Linked DNA regions of Homo sapiens: regions 1, 2, 3 and 5 are each linked to region 4. Evidence: fine-mapped expression QTL. A gene starts in region 4. Each other region holds a variant in brackets. All regions are shown on one strand. Distances are between the middles of the regions. Region 1 overlaps ANKRD36C (ankyrin repeat domain 36C). Region 2 holds the start of SNORA112 (small nucleolar RNA, H/ACA box 112). Region 3 has its middle 14 kb from the start of DUSP2. Region 4 holds the start of TMEM127 (transmembrane protein 127). Region 5 overlaps ARID5A (AT-rich interaction domain 5A).

What was found.
Region 1: its variant is fine-mapped to the expression of TMEM127 in putamen (GTEx, PIP 0.97).
Region 2: its variant is fine-mapped to the expression of TMEM127 in whole blood (INTERVAL, PIP 0.92).
Region 3: its variant is fine-mapped to the expression of TMEM127 in whole blood (TOPMed, PIP above 0.99).
Region 5: its variant is fine-mapped to the expression of TMEM127 in neutrophils (BLUEPRINT, PIP 0.95).

The regions. Positions count from the first base shown.
Region 1 is chr2:95,917,079-95,923,279 of GRCh38, forward strand. ANKRD36C (ankyrin repeat domain 36C) reads right to left here. Exons shown (of 88, transcript NM_001393982.1): 33 at 4,704-4,732; 34 at 4,529-4,601; 35 at 2,814-2,842; 36 at 2,655-2,727; 37 at 936-964; 38 at 777-849. Among named protein-coding and RNA genes, the nearest start is that of ANKRD36C, 72 kb to the right of the region's middle. The variant G/A (reference allele first, on the strand shown) is at 2,557.
Region 2 is chr2:96,211,352-96,217,552 of GRCh38, forward strand. All of the region lies in intron 1 of STARD7-AS1 (STARD7 antisense RNA 1), which reads left to right. SNORA112 (small nucleolar RNA, H/ACA box 112) reads left to right here and starts at 3,288; the gene lies at 3,288-3,411. The variant G/T (reference allele first, on the strand shown) is at 3,058.
Region 3 is chr2:96,156,658-96,162,858 of GRCh38, forward strand. No RefSeq gene overlaps it. Among named protein-coding and RNA genes, the nearest start is that of DUSP2, 14 kb to the left of the region's middle. RefSeq lists enhancers at 614-703, 883-1,421, 1,233-1,527, 1,244-1,653, 1,814-1,953 and 1 more. The variant G/T (reference allele first, on the strand shown) is at 2,717.
Region 4 is chr2:96,262,635-96,268,617 of GRCh38, forward strand. It overlaps TMEM127 (transmembrane protein 127), which reads right to left and starts at 3,363. Exons shown (of 4, transcript NM_017849.4): 1 at 3,235-3,363; 2 at 2,504-2,878. The coding sequence starts at 2,747. It overlaps CIAO1 (cytosolic iron-sulfur assembly component 1), which reads left to right and starts at 3,591. Exons shown (of 7, transcript NM_004804.3): 1 at 3,591-3,855; 2 at 4,687-4,835; 3 at 4,991-5,102; 4 at 5,202-5,290; 5 at 5,823-5,983. The coding sequence starts at 3,717. RefSeq lists silencers at 2,623-2,932, 2,983-3,192, 3,203-3,252 and enhancers at 3,483-3,672, 3,903-4,182, 4,780-5,979.
Region 5 is chr2:96,541,484-96,547,684 of GRCh38, forward strand. It overlaps ARID5A (AT-rich interaction domain 5A), which reads left to right. Exons shown (of 7, transcript NM_212481.3): 2 at 5,919-6,034. Among named protein-coding and RNA genes, the nearest start is that of ARID5A, 7.8 kb to the left of the region's middle. The variant C/CT (reference allele first, on the strand shown) is at 3,673.

The DNA.
Region 1 (6,201 bases), 350 kb before region 4:
AGACGTAGCTCCTTGAACAAGGAAGCCAATGTATTCATATTCAAGTTTATCTCATTTTTATAAGTAAAGTCAACAAAACATGTATCTCTGATGCCTAATAGTAACAAAAAGAAGTAATGAGTCAGTGTGCTTTATCCCAATTCTAGCATTGTTTCCTGCTTCCAGTAGTTCCTGGAGCTGCCAAAATCAAATATTTTTTAAGCACATATTCCAAATGCATGTGAAGTGAGTCCACTCAGATTTCCTCAGCAGAAACCCCTAAATTATATAAATAACTTCTTTTCCCTCCTTCCTGTCTGACAATCCATCATCCTTTGGAAAATAATTGCTACATCAGGGGTCTCCTTAGTTCTCATTCTACAGTGTCTATGGATTATTACTATCAGTTTTCTGTCTTTTCTCAGCAGTACGATGTGACGTCTGTAAAATCTATACTTCCTCTCTTTCTCCTTCCACCCTTAGTGAAACCATGCTGTAGAATTAAAGCAAAACTATGCTGTTCCCCAGAGCCCCTTATGTCTTGAACCTCTCTCCATATTTCTTCTTCCCAATTTCAACGTGGGGAAGTGTATAATCATACTGCAAAGATCACGTTCCAAGCCAGCAGCATTAGCGCCACCCAAGAATTTATTACAAATGAAGACTCTCAGGACTGCTGGATCAGAATGTGCAGCTTTGGCGAGCACCCCCAACCGCCCTCCGCTGATTTATTCAGGGTAGAGAAGTTCTTTTCTATCTGGATTGAACGTGACATTAAATGTCTTTTGCAAAATTACCTGTCCCAGATTTTTCTCCGTCCTTTATTTCTGTGGCTATAATCGAAACAGAATCTTCCTCGTCAGTTGTAGCCTGAATGGAATTTGAAAGAAAATAATAAATAAATAAATCAATGAAGTATGTGTCATAGAATACAATGTAAATGAGAGTTTAATTACCTTCAAGGCTGGTTGTTTCTGAGAAGACACTGAAAAGCAAAAGGGATACATAATCACTCATGTGTAAATATGATAAAGTTATCCATACATTCACACAGTGTTAGCATCAAGCTGTATCCTTCTGCCTGTACTAGTGTAGGCTCTGATGTCTTCTACTTTGTGTCTTGGGACTGGAACATGACAGAAGTACACTGGTAAGAGGGAATACAGGCTCCATCAAATATATCCTTACAATTTCAAACACGGTATGATTCGTCATACGTCGAAAACTAAAATAAAACCGTGTCAATCTCAATGTGGATATGCCGAGTGATGAGGACAAACTGATCTAAAATCGGAGGAGCAACTCATACATGTGAGAATCAATGTCAAAGCAGGTGCTACATGATCCCACATGTCTTTCATGCAGGAAATCAAAAGGATTTACACCATTATACTACAAACATTCATCATGCTCTTTAACTTGCCCAATAACTGAGAAGGCACACAGTTACCATGACACTTCAGTTGAACATACACTTCACATCCCTTCAGTGGAAGTGTCCTAAATTGATCACCTTGGATATCTGTTTGCTGATACCTAGTAGATAATATTCATTATCTCTCACACCCATGTGGTGTAATAATTTGCCTAAGTTTCTTGGATCCACTAGTTTATCCCTCCAAAACTTTCTTCGTCAAGTCGTGGCACCAAAGGGTAATATATTAGCCTCAATAAAAATATCATCAATTATCAATTTTGACATACTTCTACAAAGTAAACCTGCAGCAAGCGTTAGATATTGAGCAGTTTTTCATTCAGAAATCACTGCAATATTCATTGAAAATGACCATTTTAGGAGTTAATTAGAATTCAACATAATTTTTGTTTCTAAAACATGATACTTCTTGGGAGTATCATGTTAGTCTCTAAAGAAGTTTCATGAAATAGCTATTTCACCCAAGAGGTAGCTCCTGGAACAAGGAAGCCAATGTATTCATATTCAAGTTTATCTCATTTTTATAAGTAAAGTCAACAAAACATGTATCTCTGATGCCTAATAGTAACAAAAAGGAGTAATGAGTCAGTGTGCTTTATCCCAATTCTAGCATTGTTTCCTGCTTCCAGTAGTTCCTGGAGCTGCCAAAATCAAATATTTTTTAAGCACATATTCCAAATGCAAGTGAAGTGAGTTCACTCAGATTTCCTCAGCAGAAACCCCTAAATTATATAAATAACTTCTTTTCCCTCCTTCCTGCCTGACAATCCATCATCCTTGGGAAAATAATTGCTACATCAGGGGTCTCCTTAGTTCTCCTTCTACAGTGTCTATAGGTTATTAATATCAGTTTTCTGTCTTTTCTTAGCAGTACGATGTGACGTCTGTAAAATCTGTACTTCCTCTCTTTCTCCTTCCACCCTTAGTGAAACCATGCTGTAGAATTAATGCAAAACTATGCTGTTCCCCAGAACCCCTTATGTCTTGAACTGCTCTCCCTATTTCTTCTTCCCAATTTCAATGTGGGAAAGTGTATAATCTTACTGCAAAGATCATGTTCCAGGCCAACAGCATTAGCGTCTCCCAAGAAATTTATTACAAATGAAAAATCTCAGGCCTGCTGAATCAGAATGTGCAGCTTC[G/A]GCGACTCCCCCCACCCACCCTCCGCTGATTTATTCGGGATAGAGAAGTTCTTTTTTATCTGGATTGAACATGACATTGAATGTGTTTTGCAAATTACCTGTCTCAGATTTTTCTCCATCCTTTATTTCTGTGGCTATATTCAAAACAGAATCTTCCTCGTCAGTTGTAGCCTGAATGGAATTTGAAAGAAAATAATAAATAAATAAATCAATGAAGTATGTGTCATAGACTACAATGTAAATGAGAGTTTAATTACCTTCAAGGCTGGTTGTTTCTGAGAAGACACTGAAAAGCAAAAGGGATACATAATCACTCATATATAAATATGATAAAGTTATCCATACATTCACACAGTGTTAGCATCAAGCTGTATCCTTCTGCCTGTACTAGTGTAGGCTCTGATGTCTTCTACTTTGTGTCTTGGGACTGGAACATGACAGAAATACACTGGTAAGAGGGAATACAGGCTCCATCAAATATATCCTTACAATTTCAAACATGGTATGATTCATCATACGTCAAAAACTAAAATAAAACCGTGTCAATATCAACGTGGATATGCCGAGTGATGAGGACAAACTGATCTAAAATCGGAGGAGCAACTCATACACGTGAGAATCAATGTCAAAGCAGGTGCTACATGATCCCACATGTCTTTCGTGCAACAAATCAAAAGAATTTACATCATTATACTACAAACATTCATCATGCTCTTTAACTTGCCCAATAACTGAGAAGGCACACAGTTACCATGGCACTTCAGTTGAATGTACACTTCACATCCCCTTCAGTGGAAGTGTCCTAAATTGATCACCTTGGATATCTGTTTGCTGATACCTAGTAGATAATATTCATTATCTCTCACACCCATGTGGTGTAATAATTTGCCTAAGTTTCTTGTATCCACTAGTTTATCCCTCTGAAACTTTCTTCATCATGTCATGGCACCAAAGGATAATATATTAGCCTCAATAAAAATATCATCAACTATCAATTTTGACATACTTCTACAAAGTAAAACTGCTACAAGCATTAGATATTGAGCAGTTTTTCATTCAGAAATCACTGCAATATTCATTGAAAATGACCATTTTAGGAGTTAATTAGAATTCAACATAATTTTTGTTTCTAAAACATGATACTTCTTGGGAGTATCATGTTAGTCTCTAAAGAAGTTTCATGAAATAGCTATTTTATCCAAGAGATAGCTCCTGGAACAAGGAAGCCAATGTATTCATATTCAAGTTTATCTCATTTTTATAAGTCAACAAAACATGTATCTCTGATGCCTAATAGTAACAAAAAGGAGTAATGAGTCAGTGTGCTTTATCCCAATTCTAGCATTGTTTCCTGCTTCCAGTAGTTCCTGGAGCTGCCAAAATCAAATATTTTTTAGGCACATATTCCAAATGCATGTGAAGTGAGTTCACTCAGATTTCCTCAGCAGAAACCCCTAAATTATATAAATAACTTCTTTTCCCTCCTTCCTGTCTGACAATCCATCTTCCTTGGGAAAATAATTGCTACATCAGGGATCTCCTTAGTTCTCATTCTACAGTGTCTATGGGTTATTACTATCAGTTTTCTGTCTTTTCTCAGCAGTACGATGTGATGTCTGTAAAATCTATACTTCCTCTCTTTCTCCTTCCACCCTTAGTGAAACCATGCTGTAGAATTAAAGCAAAACTATGCTGTTCCCCAGAGCCCCTTATGTCTTGAACCTCTCTCCATATTTCTTCTTCCCAATTTCAACGTGGGGAAGTGTATAATCATACTGCAAAGATCACGTTCCAAGCCAGCAGCATTAGCGTCACCCAAGAATTTATTACAAATGAAGACTCTCAGGCCTACTGAATCAGAATGTGCAGCTTCGGCGAGCCCCCCCACCTGCCCTCCACTGATTTATTCGGGGTAGAGAAGTTCTTTTCTATCTGGATTGAACATGACATTAAATGTCTTTTGCAAAATTACCTGTCCCAGATTTTTCTCCATCCTTTATTTCTGTGGCTATATTCGAAACAGAATCTTCCTCGTCAGTTGTAGCCTGAATGGAATTTGAAAGAAAATAATAAATAAATAAATAAATGAAGCATGTTTCATAGACTATAGATTCACTAGTTCACAATATAAATGAAAGTTTAATTACCTTCAAGGCTGGTTGTTTCTGAGAAGACACTGAAAAACAAAAGGGATAATCACTCATATGTAAATATGATACATTTTCCATACATTCATGCGGTGTTAGCATCAAGCTGTATCTGCCTGCCTGTATTAGTGTAGGCTTTGATGTTTTCTACTTTATGTCTTAAGCCAGGAGCATGACAGAAATATACTAAAGAAAACAGGAATTGATGTGTCACGATATATTCCTAACTATTTCAAACATAATATGATTTCTCGTATATCTAAAAGAAAAATAAATCAGTGTGAATATCAAAAAGGGTATGCCAAGTGATCACGACAAATGTGATCAAAAATCAGAGGGGAAACTCAATCACCTGGGAAAATCTCAAAGCAGGTGGCACATGCACCCACTTGTCTTTTATGCAAGATATCCAAATGATTTACACCATTATACTGCAAACATTCATCATGTTCATTAACTTGCCCAGTAACTGAGAAGGTACACATTTACAGTGACACTTCAGTTGAATGTACACCTCATGTCTCTGTCTCTTCAGTGAAGTGTCCTAAATTGCTCAGCTTGGATATATGTTTCCTGAATCCGAGTAAATAATATTCATTATTTCTCATATCCATGTGGTGCAACAATTTGCCTAAGTTTCCTGTATTCTCTAGTTTAGCCTTCCCAGACATTTCTTCATCCACTCATGGCAACAAAGTATGATATATAAACCTCAATAAAAAGCATCATCAATTATCAATTTTGACATACTTCTACTAAATAAAACTGCTAAAAGCATTGGATATTGATAAGCTTTTATATTTGGAAATCACTCCAATATTCATTGAAAATGACCATTTTAAGAGTCAGTTGATGAACTCAACATTATATTTGTTTTTAAAATTGTCTTGTTAGGAGGATCATACTATTCTCTAAATAATATTCATTAAATAGTTATTTTATCCGTGAGATAGCTCTTTGATGAAAGAAGCCAATGTATTGATATTCAAGTTTATCTAATTTTTATAACAAAAATCAACAAAAGATATATGTCTTATGCCTAATAGTAGCAAAGAGAAGTAATTAGTCAATGTGGTTTATCCCAATTCTAGCTTTCTTTGCTTCATCCAGTAGTTCCTGGAGCTGCCAAAATCAAATCTTTTTTGTGTAAATATGCTAAATGCATCTGAAGTGAGTTCACTCAGGTTTCCTCAGCAGAAACCCCAAAATTACATAAATAACTTCTTCTTTTCCCTCTTTCCTGCCTCACAATCCCTCTTCCTTGAGGAAAATCATTGCTACATCAGTGGTCTCATTAGTTCTCGTTCTACAATTTTTACTGGTTATTATGATCACTTTTCCATCTGTTTTTAGCAATACGATGTGACGTCTGTAAAATCTATACTTCAACTCATTCTCCTTCCACCCTTGGTGAAAACATGCTGTAGAATTAAAGCAAAATTATGCTGTACCCTGAGCCCCTTATGTCTTGATCTGCTCTCCAATGTTTCTTCTTCCC
Region 2 (6,201 bases), 51 kb before region 4:
GGCTCACACCTGTTATCCCAGCACTTTGGGAGGCCAAGGCAGGCAGATCACAATGTTAGGAGTTTGAGACTAGCCTGGCCAACATGGTGAAACCCTGTCTCTACTGAAAATACAAAAAGTTAGCTGGGCGTGGTGGCAGATACCTGTAATCCCAGATACTTGGAAGACTGAGGCAGGAGAATCGCCTGAGCCTGGGAGGCGGAGGTTGCAGTAAGCCACGATCGCACCACCGCACTCTAGCCTGGGCCACGAAGCAAGACTTCATCTCAAAAAAAAAAACAAAGCCTATGTGAAAAATAATTATTCTTGCTTCACTTTATGCAAATCATCAGGCCAAGTACAATAAGACTGCGGTTTATTTTGTAAACAAATCAGTTCTATCATGATTTGTTTTTAGTAAAAATGGGAACTGGAGAGAGAAAAATTATGCTTCAGAAGAAAAACTGTGGTACACCTTTTGTTAACTGTTCTTAAGTTTTTTTCTGCAGTTTGAACTAAATCCTAAATTCTTTGTGGGCTACAAGTTCCCAGGCTAATGCTTTTAAATCTTTACTTTTAAAACTGGGAACTGCACTCCTTACCCTAGTACTCATTATTTCCCTTATAGTACACGGTTCCCTTAAACACAGTACGAAAACTATAGGTGGCAATACTAATGCCTTTGCCATGCAAGCCTTCGAACCCCAGTCAGGCCTGCAGGAGTACACTCAGACAGTTGCAAAGTGGTTCCACTCCTCTCACCTTGGAGTCAACACCTACCCCTCACTACACCCCTGGTTAGTAGGAAGAAGTTAAGGTCTTTGCCCTTTTTCCATCTTCATTAACAACACCTTAAGATAAAGGTGTTATAAACCCAAAGGGAGGGATTAAAACCACCATTGCAAAATTATAACTGAGACAGAGAGATCTGACCTAACCAACTCCATCTTGCTTCTAACCTCCAAGTTGTCCTTATTCATTCCTGGGCATAGGCTGAACTAACTTTGGGAGGGACGTAATTTATAGTTTAAAACAAAGAGGATAACAGCCATTTCTCAAAACAAAGGTCCTTGCCTGGAGACTAGACTGCCTTTGTAGGACTAACAAATTAGCCACAAGGTTAGAAGTTAAGGTTTAAGAGGCTACAAGATTCTGACCCTCCCTGAACTGCTCCTAAGATCAGTGCTTGAGATATTTTGCTGACCTTGCACTTGATGGATCGGCTGGCACCACCCAGATGGATAAAATGGCTCATTTGATCTGTGACCCCCAACCGGGAACCAGCTCAGTGCAAGATGACAGCTTCAATTCCCTATGATTTCATCTCGGACCCAACCAATCAGCACTCTGGACTCACTGACCTTCCCCCACCCACCAAAGTCTCCTTTAAAACTCTGGGTTGGGGCCTGGCACAGTGGCTCATGCCTTTAATCCCAGCACTTTGGGAAGCTGAGGTGGGCGGATCACCTGAGGTCAGGAGTTTGAGACCAGCCTAACCAACATGGCGAAACCTCGTCTCTACAAAAAATACAAAAATTAGGCATGGTGGTGGGCGCCTATAATACCAACTATTTGGGAGGCTGAGGCAGGAGAATCGCCTGAACCCAGGAGGCCAAGGTTGCAGTGAGCCACAATAGCGCTATTGCACTCTAGCCTGGGTAACAGAGCGAGACTGCGTCTCACAAAAAAAAAAAAAAAAAAGGTCTCTTGGCCAGGTGCAGTGCGGTGGCTCACGCCTGTTATCCCAGCACTTTGCTGGGAGGCCATGGCAGGCAGATCACTTGAGGTCAGGAATTCAAGACCAGCCTGGCCAGCATAGCAAAATCCCGTCTCTACTAAAAATACAAAAGTTACCTGGGCATAGTAGTGCACCCCTGTAATCCCAGCTATTAGGGAGGCTGAGTGAAGCAGGAGAATTGCTTGCACCTAGTAGGCAGAGGTTGCAGTGAGCTGAGATCACGCCACTGCACTCCAGCCTGGTCAACTGAGCGAGACTCCATCTCAAAAAAAAAAAAAAAAATTGATCCCCAAATGCTCAGGGACACTGATTTGAGTAATGATGAAACTCTGGTCTCCCGCACAGTGGGCTCTGCGTGAGTTACTCTTTCTCTATTGCAATTCTCTTGTCTTGATAAATCAGCTCTGTCTATGCAGCAGGCAAGGTGAACCCATTGGGTGGTTACACCAGGATGGGGTAGGGGGCAGTAAAGACACCACTGGTGAAGGGGGACTCCTCAGGCCTTCGACGCCTGCCATCAAAACCTTCCTTCGACGCCTGCCATCAAAACCTTCCCCGGCCTCCCCTCCTGGCTCTCCCAGAAGCACCCCAAACATTCCTCTCTGCTAACTCCTCGGTCCAAGAATGGACCCGTGTCACAGCCTGAGCGCCCAGGACAGTCCAGAGGGAGTCACATGGGCAGGTGGCCCGTCGCAGTCTGCAAATATGTCAGCCTTTTGGTAAAAGAGCAACAGAAGAGAGTTTGTTGGGGCAGATGCCCTAGGTCAAGTAGTAGCTGTCCCTCTCTTTTTGACCCAAAGGTGACAGTGTTGGAAGGTAAACAGATTTACTCACCTGTGAGCAACCTGGCTAAATGATCTCAAAGTGTATTAAATTACTATTCTGTATCCAGCCTCATTAAAACAAAGCTGCTAAGTTGTTTCCTTACCCTTTTAAATCTTATATTTAAGCACCTTATTGACAGAAGAAAAAATATTATAAACTGTCTTGGTGTGAAATGGACTGCTGGTTCCAAGGCATTTAGGAATTTTACTGTAGCTAAAGAGTTATGCGATTTTAGACGTTCTTAATAAAAGTAACTGTTTCTCCAAAGAGAGATTATGCTTTCCTGGGAACCGAAATTTAGGTCTTTCCTATCCAGCCTGTCCGATTTTAGGTTGGATTAATGAGGTTTTATTTCATCTGGAAAGCAGTGAAGAAGAAATGTGTATGTAACAGAAAGTAGTATTTGACACCGTGTTTAGCCAGGGGTTTTTTGTTTTGTTTTGTTTTGTTTTGAGACGGAGTCTCACTCTGTTGCCTAGGCTGGATCTTGGCTCCCTGCAACCTCTACCTCCTGG[G/T]TTCAAGCAATTCCCATGCCTCAGCCTCCCAAGTAGCTGGGATTACAGGCCCATGCCACCATGCCCAGCAAATTTTTTGTATTTTAGTAGAGACGGAGTTTCACCATGTTGCCCAGGCTGGTCTCGAACTCCTGACCTCAGGCGATCTGCCTGCCTCGGCCTCCCAAAGTGCTGGGTTTGCAGACATAAGCCACTACACCCTCTCTCTAAAAACATTTTTAAAAGGAGCCAATGAGGCCTGCGCAAGCCCCAACCCATTGGTGGTTTGTTGTTGCTATCTGCCTCATAAAGCAGAGTGGAGGGTTTGTCTTTTGGGAAGATGAAGTGTCTTCTCTAAAAAAGCCTCCTACATAGTTGGCCTTGGCATCTGCCAGGAATAGAAGGGCAGGGCTTGAGGCTTCCTGAGTCTGGGTTTTCAGTTGAGGTGGAGAGTGAATACAGTGATTGTAACCAGAAAACCCGGAGTGGGGTGGAGTTACCTCCGGAACTCATCACTGTTAACTCAGCCTGGACTTTGTGACAGTTAGAGAAGTGGATTTCTTAATAATAATAATTTTTTTAAAGGAGCACTTTGGCCGGGTGCGGTGGCTCACGCCTGTAATCCCAGCACTTTGGGAGGCCAAGGCGGGCGAATCACCTGAGGTCAGGAGTTCGAGACCAGCCTGGCCAACATGGTGAAACCCCATCTCTACTAAAAATACAAAAGTTAGCCAGGTGTGGTGGTGCATGCCTGTAATCCCAGCTACTTGGGAGGCTGAGGCAGGAGAATTGCTTGAACCTGGGAGGCGGACGTTGCAGTGAGCCGAGATCATGCCATTGCACTCCAGCCTGGGCTACAGAGGGAGACTCTGTCTCAAAAAAAAAAAAAAAAAAAAAGGAGTACTTTGTGGGTTTGATTTTATATGTATACATAAGTTTTCTACCAATATCCTATAAACCAAACGAATCCTCAGAAACTCCTGCTGAGCCTCTCTAATGCAGCCATTTTCTCCATCCTACTGCCTGTTTCCCATCAGTACATAAACATAATCGAGTTCATCTTCAAAAAAGGCTTTGGGGATAAAAGTCTTTAAAAAGAGGCTTTAACTCTTCCCCTTTCTAGATACCACTTCTCTTTCCACTGCTAAGTTGTTTTTTTTTTTTTTTTTTTTTTTTTTTTTTTTTGAGACGAAGTCTTGCTCTGTTGCCCAGGCTGGAGTGCGGTGGCTTGATCTTGCCTCACTGCAACCTCTGGCACCCGAGTTTAAGCGATTCTCCTGCCTCAGCCTCTGAAGTAGCTGGGATTACAGGCGCGTGCCACCACGCCCAGCTAATTTTTGTATATTTAGTAGAGACAGGGTTTCAGCATCTTGGCCATGCTGGTCTTGAACTCCTGACCTCGTGATCTACCCGCCTCGGCCTCCCAAAGTACTAGGATTACAGGTGTGAGCCACCGCGCCCGGCCTATATATTTTTAAAAACAATGGCATATACAGGTGGCCCTTTGTATTTACGGGTTCTGCATCCAGGGATTCAACTAATTGTGGATGGAAAATATTTGGGAAAAAAAATTGCATCTATACTAAACATGTACCCACTTTTTTGTCATTATTCCCTAAACCAGCGGTCCCCAAACTTTTTGGCACCAGGGACTGGTTTCATGGGAGACAGTTTTTCCACGGACGGGGTAGGATGGTTTTGGGATGAAACTGTTCACCTCAGATCATCAGGCATTAGTAAGATTCTCATAGCAACCTAGATCCCTAGCATGCACAGTTCACAATAGGGTTCGCTCTCCTGTGAGAATCCAGTGTCACCGCTGAACTGACAGGAGGCAGAGTTCAGGCGGTAATGCGCTGTGAGCACCCCTCCCCTAAACAATACAGTATAACAACTGTAGAGCATTTACGCTGTATTAGTTATAAGGAATCTAGAGATGATTTAAAGTATATGGGAGTATGTACATAGATTATGTGCAAATACTATGCCATTTTATATCAGGGACTTGAGCATCCACAGGAGGTCCTGGAACAAATCCCCCGCAGATACCAAGGGACAACTATATGTTTCCTGCCTCTATTTCTGTACCTCCCTATCATTTCTTCCTGTTTAGAAATTAAAAAATCAATTTTTTGACAGAATTCTGTCACTTTTTTTAAGGTTCTAATAGTACTGTCTCAGATGACCTCCCTTCAAATAAACCAACTTTTTTTTTTTTTTTTTTTTTTTTGAGACAGGGTCTCACTCTGTCACCCAGGCTGGAGTGCAGTGGCTTGATCTCTGCTCACTACAACTTCCGCCTCCCAGCTCAAGCAATTCTCCTGCTTCAGCCTCTCAAGTAGCTGGGACTACAGGTGCATGCTACCATGCCTGGCTAATTTTTGTATTTTTTTGTAGAGACAGGGTTTTGCCATGTGGACCAGGCTGGTCTCGAACTCCTGGGCTCAAGAAATCCACCTGCCTCAGCCTCCCAAAATGCTGGGATTACAGGCATGAGCCATGGTGCTCCACCTGTTATCAACAAACTTTGTTTACTTGTGTATCCCCAGAACAATGTTGAAAAACTATATCCCCACTTTGCATTTTTTAAGGTGATCCAAGATTATGAGTTTAAATGATTGCACATTACACCATTTCTGGATTGTTGTAAATATTATTTTAAAATAAAGATGTTACATCATTTTCAAATGTATCCAATGGAATCTATATCATAGCAATTTAGTACCTATCATTATTCTTTTTAACTTTTTTTTTTTCAGTTGCAGGATTTAATAGAGTGAAACAGAGCTCCCATAAAATGGGAGGGGACCCAAAGGGGGTTGCCGCTCCCTGCTCGATTGCCTGGGTTTATATCCCGATCATTGTCCCTCCCCCTGTGCTCTCAGGCAATGTATGATTTGACTATTTCTTTACCTTCTGCTTTAGCCTCATTTGTATTTTAGTGAGCCCTCTTTACTGCCTGATTGGTCGGGTGTGAGCTGAGTTACAAGCCCCATGTCTAAAGGTGGGTGCAGTCACCTTTCCCAGCTAGGCTTGGGAATTCTTAGTTGGCCTAGGAAATCCAGTTAGTCCTGTCTCTCAGTCCCCCCTCTCAACAGGAAAACCCAAGTGATGTTGGGGAGGTTGGCCGACGGCCGCTCTGCTTCCTGCTGAATTTGGGCATAC
Region 3 (6,201 bases), 110 kb before region 4:
AGCAGTGTGACAAACTGGTTTGGGGGCTAATGTGAGGTTACAGCAGAGGTTTCCCAAACCAACCAGTTGGTTTCAGAATCAGCCAGGCCCTGTTGTCTCCTAACCAGACTATGATAACAGCCACCCCCAGGTCCTGGGCACCTGCCTCTGCCTCTCCCGGCCCCGTCTGCCCACCCCCTCCCATCACAGCCCAAGTCTTCTTCCCCGAGGGAAATCTGAGTCCCAGCTCCCTATAGTTGCCTCTGGGATGCATCCACACCCTTCAGCAGGGAGTCAAGGCCCCATCTTTCTTCCCCTTATTTGATTCATGTTCTTCAGCAAAGCCCAGCTTAGTTCTTCCCACCACCCTGTGCCCATGGCCCCCAAACCACCTTGCTCACAGCAGCCACTCTGTCTGCAATGCCCTTCTTGTGGACTCAGAATGCCCTCATGCCCGCCTCCCTGGGGCCAGCACCAATGCTGCCTCCTCCAGGAAGCTTCCCCGTCACCCTGGCGGAGCGTGGTGGCTCCCTCTTGGGTGCCCTGCAGCTCTGTGAAGCCCTCAGGGACTTGCTGTCCCATGGGAGCTGCTGTCATGCAGCTGCTTCCAAGCAGGCTCCACCCTCTTGGATGTCTCCCTCTGTCCTCACCCCAGGGATTCTCATCAGCCCTTCTTTACAGATATGGAAACTGAGGCTCAGAGAGGGAAAGTGAGTCATGCTTGGTGAATCCTAAGCAAGAGGCTGGAGGGGCAGAAGACATGTCCTGTACAGGCTGCCCAGAGCCATGCTGCCTTCCCCCACCCTCAGCAGAACCTGCCTGCCCCCAGGTCAGCCACCGTCCCCCCAGGAGGCCCCCATGCCTGAACACAGGGGTGGCCCCTGCCAGAGCCACACTGGGCAAGTAGGGCTGTGGACAGGACCAGTGCACAGCCATGGTTCCCACAGGGCAGAAGGAACAGGTTACAGAAAACCACTGGGCTTATCCTCAGCCATCTCCTACCTCCCCAAGGAGCCCTTGGGGCCTGGGGACAGGTCAGTAGCAGAGGAAGGACAAGGGGCTTACAAGCATCTTGGCCCTGGCATGGAGTCGAAAATGGGTGAGCAGGTGGCCACATGGGTTGGGGACCACAGGGCCAGGCAGTGTCCGGCAGCCCAGAAGCCCTGAGCTGAGGCTAAGCGGGGCTCTCCCCACACCCCACCCTATAGAGGGTGGAGGAAGTTCCCTGCTGGGTCCAGGGCTGGGACAGTGACAGGCCCCAGCGGGGAGAAGGCCCCATAGTCCCAGTCCGCCAAGGGAAATAGAAACTGCTCACACGCCAGCAGTAGGGCGCACACGGGGTGCCTTCCCCTCATGGCGTGCAAGGAGGGGTGGCCCCTCTGTGTGGGCGGCGGCAGTGCTGAATCATGTCACCCTGCCCCTGCCGCTTCACTGGGAAAGGGGCCCCAGCAGCACCACCTCACCCTGCTGTTGTCGGAACTGAATGAGCCACCATCCGGGAAGGTGTTTTGGAAGCTGTGAACGGCCTGCCATACGTAAATAATTAAAATAATGAAGGAACAACAGACTCATGAGGGCAGGCAAGTGGGCTGGCCTCCCAGCACAGGGGGCAGCCCCCACCTATAGGGAGACCCCAGAAGAAGCTTTTCTTCTGTCCCCCAGCCTCTCTCCAGGCATAGGGCTCTTCCTGGCCCCTCTGCCCATGTGTAAGCTTCTCTCACAGCCGAGGACAAAGCCTTCCCCAGGACCCTCCTGCTCTGGCACCTCTCAGCCTCCTGGCCCTTGACTCCTCAACTTTGGATCCTGTGGGGCAAGAGAGGGCAGTCAGGGAGAGCAGAGGCCCCATGGTTGTCAATTCAGGGGGAGCGTCACAGACAGTGCCCCCCTGCCCCACCTAGCTGGGCCCCTTCCTCGTGCATCTCCGGGCTGCTTATGCTAAGAGAACCTTCCTCCTTTCCCTGATCGGCAGCCCCTTCTGTAGGCTCCATGCAGCAGGTGCTGGGACAGAAGAAATCCATGCTGGTGCACTGCAGCCGTCTGCTCCCGAGAGGGCCGCCTCGGGACCTGCTGCCCAGCACGGGCTCGGGCAAGGCTTGCTGAGAGGCTCAGGGCACGGGGGATCCAGGAGTCCAAGGTGGACCCAGGGGGCCTGGCCGCCTGCACAGCCCCTTCTTGTCCTAGCTTGGCAGGAGGCCCTCAGACCCTGGCCAGTGAGGTCCAGAGAGTCTGCACTGGGACAGCCCAGTCACATCAGCGGCAAGAAGAGTCGCGAGAGAGCCAGGAGCTGGGTCACGAGAGGGTGTTGCTGACTGTTTTTGGCCCCAGCCCCTTCTTGCCCCTTCAATAAACTTCTCCTCCTCCACCCTGGAATTTCCCCAGGAGGATCACACACATTAGAGGGGCGCTGCCCAGAACTAAGACCTCCGTGAGACTCAGCCATTCAACACATATTTGTGGAGCAGCTCTTATGCGCCAGGCACCGCTCTGGGCTCTGGGAATGCAGTGGCTTTGCTGGTTACTCTCTGTCCCCTTCCCCTTCCCAGACCCGTTCTCCTCCCTGCTCTGGGCCCACAGGCTGCCATGCACGGACAGTCAGGTGGGATCTCTCACTCTCTGCTTCCTGACTACTCAGCCAGAAGGCACCAGGAGGCGAAGTGGGGAAAGAGTCTCGAGGACTTCTATCCCTGCTCCTCCTCTGCCCTGACACCAAGGTGTGGGCCGGGCTGGGTCCCTCTGG[G/T]ACTCCCGTTCCCATAGCTCGGCCCCTCTTCACAGCCCTCGCTGTCCCAGACTCTGACAACATCTTCCCTCTCCTTGTTCTCCCAGCCCAAAAAAGAAGAATGGCCTTGTGGTACAGTGCAAAAATGACTACAACATTTTGACGCTCTTCTATCAAGAGGTGGAGTCCAATTCTCCACAACACATCAAGGACACAGGACAGCCCAGCCTGTGGCACAGGTGCTTTCTCACACATCCTGCCCAGACGCCCACGGTTCCTGGTACTGTGTGTTTGCCCTCGCTGCAAATATGCCCGATTTGTTCAACTACAGCTGTGTTCCTCGTGGTCTTTGGCTGGAGGGAGTTGAGAGACCCCACCTCTATCCTGGTTCCAGCCTCGCCCCTCCTCCTGTAGCATCCAGAATGAACTTTCTAAGTTTCTAAATTGCTCTGCTGGAAACCTTTCAGTGGCACCCAGGTATGTCGGTAGCAGTTCGATTTGGCTGACAGGACAGTGGCCCAGGGTTAAGTGGGGACTAGGAGCTCAGGCTGGTATGCAGGCTCTCCTCCCCAGAACTCCCAGCATATAAAAACTATAAAAACCCTAGAAGAAAACCTAGGAAATACCATTCTGGACACAAGCCCTGGCAGAGACTCCAAAAGCAATTGGAACAAAACCAAAAATTAACAAATGGGACCTAATTAAACTAAACAGCTTCTACACAGCAAAAGAAACCATCAACAGAGTAAACAGGCAACCTACAGAACAAGAGAAAATATTTGCAAACAATGCATCCAACAAAGTTCTAATATCCAGAATCTATAAGGAACTTAAATTAACAAGCAAAAAACAACCCCATTTAAAAAATGGACAAAGGGCTGGGTACAATGGCTCATGCCTGTAATCCAGCACTTTTGGAGGCCAAAGCAGGCAGACCACTTGAGGTCAGGAGTTCAAGAGACCAGCCTGGCCAATATGTGAAACCCTGTCTCTACTAAAAATACAAAAATTAGCCAGCTGTGGTGGCTCGCGCCTGTAGCCCCAGCTAGCTACTTGGGAGGCTGAGGCAGGAGAATCACTTCAACCCAGAAGGCAGAGGTTGCAGTGAGCCGAGACCTCGCCACTGCACTCTAGCCTGGGTGACAGAGCAAGACTCTCTCTCAAAAAAATAAAAAATAAAAATAATAAAAATGGGCAAAGGCCATGAACAGACACTTCTCAAAAGAAGACATACATATGGCCAACAAGCATATGAATAAAATGGTCAGTATCACTAATTATTAGAGAAAGGCAAATCGAAACCACAATGAGATAACAATTCACACCAGTCAGAATGGCTACTATTAAAAAGTCAAAAAATAACAGATGCTGGAGAGGTTGTAGAGAAAAGAGAACACTTCCATGCTGCCAGTGGGAATGTAAATTAGTTCAGCCACTGTAGAAAGCAGTTTGGAGATTTCTCCAAGAACTTAAAGCAGAACTATCATTTGACCCAGCAATTCATTACTGAGTATGTACCCAAAGGAACATAAATCATTCTACCACAAAGACACATGCACGTGAATGCTCATTACAGCACTATGCACAACAGCAAGGAGGAGGAATAAACCTAAATGCCCATCAACGGTGGACTGGATAAAGAAAATGTGGTGCATATATACCATGGAAGATTACACAGCCATAAAAAAGGAGATCAAGTCCTTTGCAGCAACACGGATGGAGGTGGAGGCCATCATCCTAAGCAAATTAATGCAGGAATAGATAACCAAATACCGCAAGTTCTCACTTATAAGTGGGAGCTAAACGTTGAGCACACATGGAGCCTACTTGAGGTGGACGAGGAGGGTGAGGGTCGAAAAACTACCTGTCTAGTACTATCCTTATTACTGGGGTGACGAAAAAATCTGTACACCAAACCCCCATAACGTGCAATTTACCCATGTCACAAGCTTGCACACATACCCTCTGAACCTAAAATAAAAGTTGGAGAGAAAAAAAACAAAATAAACTTAAAATTTTTTAAAAGTTTCTGTATGCTCAAACTCACCACAAACAAAAGTAAAGGGTGAGTGACAAACATGGAGAAAATACTTAGAAACAGGCTGGGCGCGGTGGCTCATGCCTCTAATCCCAGCACTTTGGGAGGCCAAGACAGGCGGATCACCTGAGGTCAGGAGTTCAAGACCAGCCTGACCAACATGGCGAAACCTCGTCTCTTCTTAAAAAATACAAAAATTAGCCAGATGTGGTTGCACGTGCCTGTAATCCCAGCTACTCGGGAGGCTGAGGCAGGAGAATTGCTTGAACCCAGGTGGCAGAGGTTGCAGTGAGCCGAGATTGTGCCACTGCACTCCAGCCTGGGCAACAAAAGCAAAACTCCATCTCAAAAAAAAAAAAAGAAAGAAAGAAAATATTTGAAAGCAAGTGACAGATAAAATATTATTCATTCATTCATTCATCCAGCAGTTAATTGGAGGGTGCCTATTAGGCACCAGGCATTGTCTCAGGTACTGGAAACCTTCACATGGACAAATGACAAAATCTCTGCCCTCTTGGTTCTTACATTGTAATGGGGTGGGGAGGACAAGCAATAAAGAAATAAACACATCGTACGTCAGATGGTGGTTATGGAGAAAAGCCCAACAGGAAAAGAGGACAGAGAGTGTGAAGAAAGTGAGTAAAGATGTGAGGCCTCCAAAAACAAATAAGAAAAAGTCAAACAACACAACAGGAAAGGGGCAAAGAATAACAACACAGAATTCACAGACCAAGAAATGCAAATCTCCAGTAATCCACAAAAGCCATGCTCTACCCACTGAAACAAGGCAGCGCGATGATCCACCCATCAGGTTGGCAAACATTCAAATACTGGGAAGGGTGGTGAATGAGTGAACTTGTGCTCTTTTGGTGGGAGTGTAAGTTGGTTGATAACGTGTGTTTAAAGAAAGCAATTTGACAGAACCTATCCAAATGTTTAAAGCACATGCTCTTCAACCCTGCAACCTCTCTTCTGGGTGAAGAAACTTGTCCAAAGATTTCCAAGGCAGCATTGTCTGTATTGGGAGGAAAAATGGAATACAAAGTTTTTACACTTCTATCAAGTATCTGTAAAAACAAATAATGAGGTAAATCTACACACACTGATCTAGAACAAGCTTCAAGATACAGTGAAGACAAGTGAGTTGCAAAATAAGTTCGTATAGTATGATCCCATTTCAATAAAAACAAAAAAGAGAAAGCTGTACATTCTTGTTTGTTTTTTGGTTTGTTTTGTTTCAGTTTTTTTTTTTTTTTCTTTTTTAGACAGCTCTGTCACCCAGGCTAGAGGGCAGTGGTGCGATCACAGCTCACTGCAGCCTCAACCTCCCGGACACAAGCCATCCTCCCACCTCAACCTCCTGGGTAACTGGGACCACAGGCGCACATCACCACACCCGGCTAATTTTTTGTATTTTTGGTAGAGATGGAGTTTCACCGTGTTGCCCAGGCTGGTCTCGTGGGCTCAA
Region 4 (5,983 bases):
TAAAGGTTAAGAAAACATGCTTTGCAAAAGACAAAACGGAGCCTGAATAATTTCTTTCTTTTTAATTTTTGAGATGGAGTCTCACTCTGTAGCCCAGGCTGGAGTGCAGTAGTGTGATCTGGGCTCACTGCAACCTCACCTCCCAGGTTCAAGCGATTCTCCTGCCTCAGCCTCCTGGGTAGTTGAGGCACCAGCCACTAGGCCTGGCTAATTTTTGTATTTTTAGTTGAGATGGGGTTTCACCATGTTGGCCAGGCTGATCTTGAACTCCTGACCTCAGGTGATCCATCCGCCTTGGCCTCCCAAAGTACTGGGATTACAGGTGTGAGCCTCCATGCCTGGCCTGGCCCGAATAATTTCTTAGAAAGGGTAAATACACATGTGAACAAAGAAGAACCTGCACCAAGAATTTACTTTTTTTTTTTTTTTTGAGATGGAGTCTTGCTCTGCTCTGTTGCCCAGGCTGGAGTGCAGTGGTGTGATCTTGGGCTCACTGCAACTCCTCTACTTCCTGGGTTCAAGCGATTCGCCTGCCTCAGCCTTCAGAGTATCTGGGACTACAGGCGTGTGCCACCACACCCAGCTAATTTTTGTATTTTTAGTAGAGACAGGGTTTCTTTCACCATGTTAGCCAAGCTGGTCTCCAACTCTTGACCTCAGGCAATCCACCCGCCTCGGCCTCCCAAAGTGCTGGGATCAGAAGTGTGAGCCAGTTCCTGGCCTTTCTTTTTTTTTTTTTTTTTTTGAGATGGAGTTTCGCTCTTGTTGCCCAGGCTGGAGCGCAATGGCGCGATCTCAGCTCACTGCAACCTCGGCCTCCCAAGTTCAAGCGATTCTCCTGCTTCAGCCTCCCAAGTAGCTGGAATTACAGATGCCTGCCACCACGCCCGGCTCAAAAATTTACTTTTATTTTTAACATGCCTTCGACAAGGATGCACACCAAAGTGAAATAATTATGAGATTGCTCCTTATGACAGCTGAAGTAAAACAAAGGATAAAAACTATAAATGACACGGCATCATTTTATATTGGCATCAACAGAGGTGGGGTAGTCCCAGCTCTGCCACCCTAAACTGGGTAGCCTTGGGGAGATCCTTCATTTTTCTGAGCCACAGCTAAGCACACCCCATGCAGTGCTAGATTTCGGAGATCTAGCTTTCTAGATCTGATGGGTCTAGTGGTGGGAAGGTGGTATGTGTGCTTCAAAGAAAGCAAGTACAGGGCAATGTGCTAAAAGAAAAACCACCAAGACTCACTCAAGCTTAATGCTCTTTGTGCCATTAGCAACATGACAGAGAAAAGGCTGCATATAAGGCCTCTGTCGTGTGCATAACTTTGGCTTTAATGAGCCAACCCAGCAAAGAGTACCATTAAGGTGAAATCTGGAAACAACCAGTTGTCCCCAACCTTCTACAAAATCACCCTACAGCTTCTAAAACTCAAGAGAGATGCAAAACAGTAAGAGAACACTCAGAGAAAGGCAACATTTGGCCACAAGGATGAGGCTTTTCAGCCTAGACCTGCAGAAGCAGAGTATGGTCCGATGCACAGCGGGGAACTTGGACCTTTTCACCAAATCCCAGTGCCTGAATTCTTCAGGAGGTAACACGCAGATATCTAACAGGAAGTGCTTCTGATAGGCGGTGCAGTAAACATCTGGAATGCATCACAGCCAGGGAATAGCACAGACAGGATAGCACAGAGAGGATATAAGACCTTCAAGATGGCTCAAAAGACCTTGGGGTTGATGAACTATGCTGTTACTAAGGACTGTTTGGGGTACATTGATCATTGTTAGGGTAAAAAGCAGGTGATACAGTCCAGTCCTGTCCTCACACTTCACAATTTTTACTGGAGACAAGAATGGGCAGGATAAACTATGGGGCCCATAGGACCCTCCCATCGTCTGCTGTCTATCTGGCCGGAAAGCATGATGATGAACAAAGCAACCTTGCCTCTGTCAGGCACACCTATAATGGTTCCAAGAGCCACATTCCGACTGTTGTACTGCGGGTGGCAATGGAACGGTCTTCCGATTACCTAAAATGCCACAGATTCCCTTCTTCTCTAATACGCATCCGATTACCATAGAACTCTAAGATATCTTTTAAAACCTAGTCATATTAAAAGTTCCTTTTTCTCCATTAATCAGTCTGCCCCAAAGAAGCTTTTCCGTATTTCACAGGATCCTTAGAAGAGGCCAGCTAACTGTGATACCTAGCACCCTTATCTTTTCTCGATACACAGCGTCCTTCCTCCAGCAGAATCCTAAAATAGCAGCAGTCCGGATTAACATGGCTGTGAGGAGTAGGTGCTTAGCTGAATAACATCAGAATTAATGAGGGGCCGGACCCCAAACAGAGCCACCTGGTGGGCATGAACACCAGGCAGTTATGGGGCCGTTTCCTTCAACCAAGTGTCTGGTCCCTGGCTATCTCTGCTTCAGCCAGAACACATTCTGTCCCCCACCGAGGCTTTAAGGGCCAGCGCGCAGCACCCTCACCTTTCAGCAGGTCCGGGTGCACATAGCCCAACACGTCGGAGACCCCCAGCTCCTGGCGCGAACAGGTGCCTCCGTGGATGTGCAACCAGGCGGGCTCGGCGAGGGCAGTGCACAGCGCCGTGATAGACAGGGCGCCAGGCAGGGCCGAGGCCAGGCTACGCTCCGGCTGCTTGGGCAGAGCGCTGCCTCCCGGGCTCCTCCGCCGGCGCCCGCCGGGCAGCCCTGCGCCTCCGGGGGCGTACATGCCCGGGGCCGCCCGCCGTCGCTCCGCAGTCGCTGCTGGTCGCCGCCGACCTCCGCGGGGCGCGCAGAGCCTGACAGTCCGGTGGAGGATAGCAACGCTCCGGGTTCGCTGCAGGTGAAGCCGGGACTGGGCTGTCAGGGTTGACACCAGAGGATAGGGGGGTGGGACCCGGGGCTGACGGAGACGGGGAGGGCTGCGGGAATTCGGGGGGCGGAGACAGGAGACTCCGGAATGGGACTGCGGGACGACAACCGAAGAGGGCCAGGGGCCAGATGGGGTCTGGGCAGACTCGAGTGGGGGGCGGAGGGATCGGGGATCGGCTACTGCTAGAGCAAAGACCCGGAGTCAGGGTCTCAGCCAGAGGATGCCGAGGGGCGGAGGACCGGGCTGGGCCGCGGGGATCGGGGACCCGTGATCTGGGACCGGCGGTTTGGGGTGCGACCTGTGCGCAGAAAAGACCCTCCCCACGCCGCCCACTGTTCCTCACCAGTCAGCAGGCCCCAGGGCTGGGATGGTGCTGCTCAGCCCAGTCACGGGCTTCTCGGCTGCCGGGGGCCGAGCGTTCCCAGGCCCCAATCCCGCAACGCCCGGACAGACCCGGGGCCGATGCACTTCCGGCTTCCTCCTCCTCTGCCTCCGCCTCCTCCGGCTCCCCGCCCCGTCCCCCGCGCGCGTCACAGCCTGGGCGCGCCGCCGGCTCTGCGCAGGGCCTCACGGGACTGGTAGTTCGAGGCGGTCCCGCGATGCTTTCCCTGCCGAGGTGAGGGGAGCGACTACAACTCCCAGAGGGTATGGCGGCCGCAGCAGTGGGCAGTTGAGTTTCCGGGGCGACCCAGGTCCTCCGGCGGAAGCGGGAGCCTCTGTCGGCCGCGGAAGCCTGGAGTGGGCGGTACGCAGACGCGCGCGGTGAGACCCGCTGTCTGCTCAGCGGACTCTGCCCGCCCCCACCTCCCCCTGCGTCGGGCCGACATGAAGGACTCGCTGGTGCTGCTGGGCCGTGTCCCGGCGCACCCGGACTCCCGCTGCTGGTTCCTGGCCTGGAACCCCGCGGGGACCCTGCTGGCCTCGTGCGGCGGCGACCGGAGAATCCGCATCTGGGGCACGGAGGGTAAGGCCCAGCCTGGTTGCGCGGCCCTCAGCGCTGAGGGCTCAGCCTGCGCGTAGTGCAGGCGCTCAGCCTGCAGGGGAGGCTGAACCTGTTCCTGGCGGAGGGAGAGTGGGATGTTAGCCACGCCGAGAAGGGCTTTACAGGCAAAGAAGTCTGCGACTGTTGGGAGGAAAAACGTCAGCAGACAAGCTGAAATGTCAAGGGAATTGTGTTAGCTGCAGAGGCAGGAAAATGGGAAAAGAGAGGTGTTAGGAAAGTGGCCTTCAGAGTAACTTGCGACTGGATGGTCACATTTTATCCCGAGGGCATTGGGGAACCAATAGCAATTTTAGATCAGATTTGTTTTAGAAAGATGCCTCCAGAGGTTGGGCGCGGTGGCTCACGCCTGTAATCCTAGCAGTTTGGGAAGCAGAGGCGGGTAGATCACCTGAGGTCAAGAGGTCAAGACCAGCCTGGCCAACATGGTGAAACCCCGTCTCTACTAAAACTACAAAATTAGCTGGGCGTTGTGGCGGGCACCTGTAATCCCAGCTACTCGGGAGGCTGAGGCAGGAGAATCCCTTGAACCCAGGAGGCGAAGATTGCAGTGAGCCGAGATTGTGCCATTGCACCCCAGCCTGGGCATCAGAGCAAAAACTCCGTCTCAAAAAAAAAAAAAAAAAAAAAAAAAAGCTTCCAGACGAAGTAGATTCATTTGCATCTTTGTAAAAGCTGTGAAATACACTCCCTGAGCTTTCCCCCACTAGCTTGATTCCAGTGCTAGCCCCTGATATTGAATGGCTTCATGGTGCTGCACCCAGCTCCAGAGCCTGGCCTGCGCTCCGCCTTTAGGTGACAGCTGGATCTGCAAGTCTGTCCTTTCTGAAGGCCACCAGCGCACCGTGCGGAAGGTAGCCTGGTCCCCCTGCGGTAATTACCTGGCCTCTGCCAGCTTTGATGCTACCACTTGCATTTGGAAGAAGAACCAGGATGACTTTGAGGTACCCAGGCTGGTTGGGACCAGAATTATTGCCTGTTTCCTCCCCAGGGCTGGTTCAGGAACCTGAGCCAACCTGCGCCAGTTGGGCTGTACCCATGGGAAGGGGCTTAGGGGTGTTAGCTGCTGTTAATTCTCATTTTCTTTCCCCTTTCACAGTGTGTAACCACTCTCGAGGGCCATGAAAATGAGGTCAAGTCAGTGGCTTGGGCCCCATCTGGCAACCTCCTGGCCACTTGCAGCCGAGATAAGAGCGTTTGGGTCTGGGAAGGTGAGGCCAGGTCCCTCCAGGTGGATTGGGAACCACCTGACAGCCCCCTCTGTGTCCCTGACAGGGTCGGCTCTTGGGTCCCCTTTTTCTCTCCCACAGTTGATGAAGAGGATGAGTATGAATGTGTCAGTGTTCTCAACTCCCACACACAGGATGTCAAGCATGTGGTTTGGCACCCAAGTCAGGAGGTAAGAGTCAAGCAGGGACTCTTGTGGGAAGGGCTCTGGTGTGCAGGCTTGTGCCCAGCCTTCCTCTGCTTTTCAGCCTTAATCTAGCTTTTACGGAGAGTTCCATCTGTGAACAAAAAACATTAGTCCCTTTATAAAAACAGATCCGGCTGGGTGTGGTGGCTCACACCTATAATCTCAGCACTTTGGGAGGCCATGGTGGGTGGATCATCTGAGGTCAGGAGTTCGAGACCAGCCTGGCCAACATGGTGAAACTCCGTCTCTACTAAAAATACAAAATTAGCGGGCATGGTGGCACATGCCTGTAATCCCAGCTATTCGGGAGGCTGAGGCAGGAGAATCACTTGAACCCAGGAGACGGGGGTTACGGTGAGCCGAGATCGTGCTATTGCACTCCAGCCTGGGCAACAACAGCAAACTTCATCTCAAATAAATAATAAAATAAAATAAAAGCAGATACCTGGAACTGACCTGTCCTTTGCTTCCTGGGCCACACAGACACATGTTGGGTTTCCTTTCACTCTTCCCCCAGCTCTTAGCTTCTGCCAGCTATGATGACACAGTGAAGCTGTACCGGGAGGAAGAGGATGACTGGGTATGCTGTGCCACCCTTGAGGGCCATGAATCCACTGTGTGGAGCTTGGCCTTTGACCCGAGTGGCCAGCGCCTGGCGTCTTGTAGTGATGACCGTAC
Region 5 (6,201 bases), 280 kb after region 4:
TAGAAAGTCCAGAAATAGTCCCAGATGTGTTCCTTATAAGCACTGACATTATGGGGAAAGTAGCATTTTACACCATTGGAGGAGGAGGCTACTCACTGGGGCCCCCAACCAATGAGGGGAAAGTATGGCTAGGATCCCTATTTCATCCTGTATACTGGAATAGATTCCAGATGTGTTACAAGTGAGTAATGAGACAATAATCACCATCATCATCATTATTGCTTGCTGGATGGAGAAAGGTGAAGTCTGGATGACATTCTTATGGAGAGCAGTTTTCTTTTTTGCATTTGATCCCCCACTTCTGTTACAAATAAAACATGTAAGGCATTGTGCCAGAAAAGAATCTGCACACACAGGCTGGGAACAAGGCAGTAGTGCGGTGGCTCACAGCAGCAGCAGCAGCTATCAGGGGCAAGTGGGTTTCTCCTGCCTCTGTGGGCTGAGTGGGGCTGGGAGACGGGGCCTCCAGCTCCATAAGCCTTTTCCCTCCTCCACAGAGCCAGGAGAGGGCCCACCCCACCATGCAGGTCCTGCCTGCCTGGCTCCCAGCTCTCTACCTCCCAACGCTGGACCTGCATGGCCCAACATCTATGGCAGCGGGTTTCAAGCTTATTTTTTATAGCAGAACCCCTTTTACAAATATAACCCTGATCTGTGAATGATCAGGGAAAGGGAGGGATTAGGGCAGCCAGGGACAAGACAGAGGGCACCCTGGAGACCAAGGGGGAGAGGACTCTCCCTTCTTGCTCATCTAATGCTGCAGAAGAGGGGGCCCAAAGGCCTGCAACCCAGAGGGCCCTGGCAGGACAGAGCACTAACCCTGAGAATGGAGACCGAGTTCATCTGGGGACTCAGCTGGACACAGAGATAGAATGTTTCCCTTTGTGGCTTAAGGCGAACAGCTCTAATCCCTTTCCCATCTGGGGTTAAACAGCTCGGATTGGTGACCTCCTTTCCAGGTAACACGAGCACCCAACTCCAGGAGATTTTCCCCTGGTGTGGTCCAGGCAGAGCTTGCAAACTCTGAACCATGCAGAAGGGACTAGGGCCCCTCTCGCCCTGTGGCTCACAACCTGGCTGCCCACTGGGATGCCCTGGGGAGCTTTAAACCCTGCTGCCCCACCTTGGACCTTAAATCAGACTCTGAGGATGGGGCCGGAGCATTATGCTCCTCCAGGTGATTCTGATGGGCCCTGTCTAACCACTGTATTTTTCTGAAGCCCAAGGTGCAGCGACTTGCCAAGGGTCACATAGCAAGTCTGTGACTTAAGAAGCCCCAGTCACACCAAGGAAGACATGGAGAGGGTCTGTCGATGCTGAGGCTCTGGGGCAGCAGGAATGAGGGGAGGGGATGTGTGAGCTGAGGGTAGCAGGCAGTGGGAGAAGAGCCAGTGGAGGAGGTGCTTCTGGACCTGGAAGACTTCAGGAATTCACGGATAGCTAGCAAAGAACTCAAGGATCTTCCTCTCCCATTTCATAGCAGGGAAGACTGAAGCACAGAGTCACAGAGGACTTGGTTGGAAAGGCATCAGTCTGCTGGGTCACTTGTTAGTACCCAGGATTTCTGGAGACTGGTGGGTCAGAGGCTAGCCCAAGAGGGTGGCCCTGGTCTCTTTCTCTTTGACAAGCCTTAGGACTGGTTTCTCTCCAGGCTTACTTGGACTCTTCATGAAGGCCTTGCAAATGTTGATAACCACAGCAGCCACTGGACCAGAATCAGACTTTGTTTTGAATCCTGGTCCCCCAGGGAGGCAAGCAACTTACCCATAACCATTCTGGCTTCAGATTCCCCCTCTTTAAAATGGAATTCCTCCGGGACTGAGGGAGAGAATGTACAGGCACACCTTGCTCTATCATGCTTTGCTTTATTGTACTTCACAAATACAGCATTTTTTACTCATTGAAGGTTTGTGGCAACCCAGCATCGAGCAAGTCTATCGATGCCATTTTTTAACAGCACGTGCTCACTTTGTGTCTCGGTGTCACATTTTGGTGATTCTTACAACATTTCAAACTTTTTCATTATTATATCTGTTATGGTGATCTGTGATCAGTGATCTTTGATGTTCCTATTGTCATTGTTTTGGGGTACCATGAACCCCACCCACAAAGACAGTGAACTAAATCGATAAATGTTGTGTGTGCTCCTCCTCCACCTGCTCCATCGACCAGCATTCCCCATCTCTCTTCCTCTCTTTCTCTTCTTTGGCCTCCCTGTTGCCTAAGGCACAACAATATTGAAACTGGGCCAATTAACAGTCCTACAATGGTCTTTAAGTGTTCAAGTGAAAGGAGGAGTTACAGGTCTTTACTTTTAAATAAAAAAACTAGAAATAATTAAACTTAGTGAGGAAGGCAGGTCGAAAGCCCAGATAGGCCGAAAGCTAGGCCTCTTGCACCAGTTTGTCAAGTTGTGAATGCCAAGGAAAAGTTATTGAAGGAAATCAGAAGTGCTATTCCAGTGAACACGCATGGTAAAGCAAAACAGCCTTATTGCTGATAATGGAGAAAGTTTGAGAAGTCTGGATAGAAGATCCAACAAGCCATAACATTCCCTTAAGACAAAGCCTAATCCAGACCAAGGCTCTAAATCTCCAATGCTGTGAAGGCTGAGAGAGGTGAGGAAGCTGCAGAAGAAAAGTTGGAAGCTAGCAGAGGTTGCTTCATGAGGTTTAAGGAAAGACGCCATCACCATCACATAAAAGTGCAAGGCGAATCAACCAGGGCTGGTGTAGAAGCTGCAGCAATTTATCCAGAAGATCCAGCTAAGATCACTGATGAAGGTGGCCACACTACCACAGATTTTCCATGTAGATGAAACAGCTTTGTATCAGAAGAAGATGTCATCTAGGACTTTCATAGCTAAGGAGAAGTCAATGCATGGCTTCAAAAGACAGGCTGACTCTCTTGTTAGGGGCTAATGCAGCTGGTACTGGTGACTTTAAGTTGAAGCCTGTGCTCATTTATCATTCCAAAAAACCTAGAACCTTTAAGAATTATGCTAAATCTACTCACTCTGTGTTCTAAAAATGAAATAACAAAGCCTGGATGACAGCACATCTGTTTATAACATGGTTTACTGAGTATTTTAAGCCAACTGTTGAGACCTACTGCTCAGAAAAAAGGATTCCTTTCAAAATATTATTGTTCATTGACAAGGCAACCGGTCATGCAAGAGCGCTGATGAAAATGTACCAGGAGCTGCATGTTGTTTTCATGCCTACTAGCACAACATTTATTCTAGAGCCAAGGATCAAGGAGTAATTTTAAGTTTCAAGTCTTATTATTTAAGAAATACATTTTGTAAGACTGTAGCTGCCATAGATAGTGATTCCTCTGATGGGCAAAATACATTGAAAACCTCCGGAGAGCATTTCAGGTACATTTGTGGTTCGTGGGAGGAGGTCAAAATATCCAAGCATTTGGGAGAATTTGATTCCAACCTTCCTGGATGACTTTGAGGGCTTCAAGACTTCAGTGGAGAAGACACTGCAGATGCAGTGGAACCAGCAAGAGAACTAGAGTTAGAAAGCAGAGCTTGAGGATGAGACTGAATTGCTGCAATCTCATGATCAAACTTGAGTGGATGAGGAGTTGCTTTTTATGGGTGGGCAAAGAAAGTGACTTTTTTTCTTCTTTTTTTTTCTTTCCTTTTCTTTTCTTTTTCTTTTT[C/CT]TTTTTTTTTTTTTTTTTTGAGACAGAGTCTTGTTCCATCGCCCAGACTGGAGTACAGTGGAGTAATCTCAGCTCACTGCAGCCTCCGCCTCCTAGGTTCAAAGGATTCTCCTGCCTCAGCCTCCTGAGTTGCTGGGACTACTGGGACCTGCCACCACACCCAGCTGACTTTTGTGTTTTTAGTAGAGACAGGGTTTCGCCACGTTGGCCAGGCTGGTCTCAAACTTCTGACCTCAGGTGATCCACCCACCTTGGCCCCCAAAGTGCTGGGATTACAGGCGTGAGCCACCGCGCCCATCCTAAAGTGGCTTCTTGAGGTGGAATCTACTGGCGAAGATGCTGTGAACATTGTCAAAATGACAACAAAGGATTTAGAATGTTACAGAAACTTAGTTGATAAAGCAGCAGCAGGGTTTGAGAGGAGGGACATCAGTTTTGAAAGTTTTGCTGTGGATAAAATGCTGTCAAAAATAGCATCACATGCATGCCATGGAGAAGTCTTTCATGAAAGGAAGAGTTGCCAGGTGCAGTGGCTCATGCCTGTAATCCCAGCACTTTGGGAGGCCGAGGTGGGTGGATCATGAGGTCAGGAGTTTGAGACCAGTCTGGCCAATATGGTGAAACCCCGTCTCTACTAAAAATACAAAAATTAGCCGGGCTTAGTGGCACGCACCTGTAGTCCCAGCTACTCGGGAGGCTGAGGCAGGAGAATCACTTGAACCTGGGAGGCGAAGATTGCAGTGAGCCAAGATCACGCCACTGCACTCCAGCCTGGGCAACAGAGCAAGATTCTGACTCAAAAAAAAAAAAAGAGTTAATGGATGTGGCAAACTTCATTGTTGTCTTATTTTAAGAAATTGCCACAGTCACCCCAGCCCAAGAAACCACCACCCTGAAATCAGTCAGCAGCCATCAACATGGAGGGAAGACATAAGAACACCTACCAAAGCAGGACCACTCAGTGGCCAAGGATTCTACCCTGTGCCTCTGAGTACCACTGGCCCCTGGCTTACGCTGGTTTGGGTTTCTTGTTCCTGAGGAGATTCTTTTTCTGTCTGGGATGGAAGGGAAATCTCATAGGTTCCTAACAATAAGGATGTCCTGGGAGGGAGTGAACCAATTCATACTTGATTAACAAAAGAACAAAGGACAGAAAGAAAAGGTTGTCAGAAGATGTGGGTTCCTGGTCTGGTATCTGCTGCCAGCCTGCTGTGTGGCCTCAGGCAGTTTCCAGTGGTTGTGGTTTTTGCAGTGGCAGAGGTGTTGCGTTTTTGCAACCATCAGCACATGGTGGTTCTTAGTAAAATACAGCCCATGGCTTCTCCTGCCCACCACGCAGGGTTGTTGTGAGCCTTGCTCATTCCAGCTTGGCACCTGCTGTGTGGGGTATGGGAAGCCTCACCGAACTATCAGGGAGCCCCAGGAGCCACAGGCAGTTCAGCCAGGATGGCTGTGAGTAGCCTAGGGCGAGGGAGGAGCTGCCCGTGGCCAGGGGCCAGAGGAGGCCACCCAGAGGAAGGCACTTGTCAGCAGAGACCTGAGGGGTCACCAGGACCCTTGTAGGTGAGGAGAGCATGTGGCCTTATTAGGGCAGTTAGAACTCTGCAGATGCTCAGGGAAAGGTCAGATATTCCTGAATATTCCCAGAGGAACTACTACCCAGGGACCCCTGTGTTGCTTTGGGGCCACAGCCATGGGATCCTTTAGCTCTCCAGTGAGACTAAGCTGCTTCTCAACTCTGTGTCTGAGCATGGGGCAGATTTTGGAGACAGGATTTCCCCAAGCACCACAGCCCAACCCCGGCCTCCTGTGACTTGACCTCAAGGTGGTTTTGCGTTTCCTTCAAAGATGTGGGGAGATAGTTGGAGCAGAGGAAAGAAAAGGGACAGGTGTGGAGCGGATGCAGCGGGTTGTCGGGGAGCGGGGAGGAGGGCCTGTGTGTGTGTGTGCATGTAGCCTATGTGCAGCCAGGGACACACCCCTTCCCCCTGGCCAATTCTTTTTTTTTTTTTAATAATAGAGACGGGGTCTCACTACGTTGCCCAGACAGGTCTTGAACTCCTGACCTCAGGTCATCGCCTGCCTGGGCCTCCCAAAGTGCTGGGATCACAGGAGTGAGCCCCTGCACTGGCGCCCTCTGGCAACTCCAATTGGGAGTAGGGAGAGTGCTCCTGTTCCTCCCTGCTTGCATCTCATATGCTCTCTCCCCACCCCTTCCTCCTTACTCCTTCCCTCTCTCCTTGCAGCAGCCCCTGTCAAAGGGAACAGGAAGCAGTCCACGGAGGGTGACGCCCTAGACCCACCTGCATCCCCCAAACCTGCTGGCAAGCAGAACGGAATCCAGAACCCCATCTCGCTGGAGGTGAGTTGACTCCCTCTGCTGACTCCCTGGGCACTCTTCCCTGCCACCCTCACCTGTGCTCCGCCTCCAGGTGAACCTGGACACTCCCCAAGCTCTCAGGAGGGAGATATGTTCCTACCCTGGCCCTGCCCAGCAGCCAGGGGACTTACTTGTCATCTGTGGCAGAG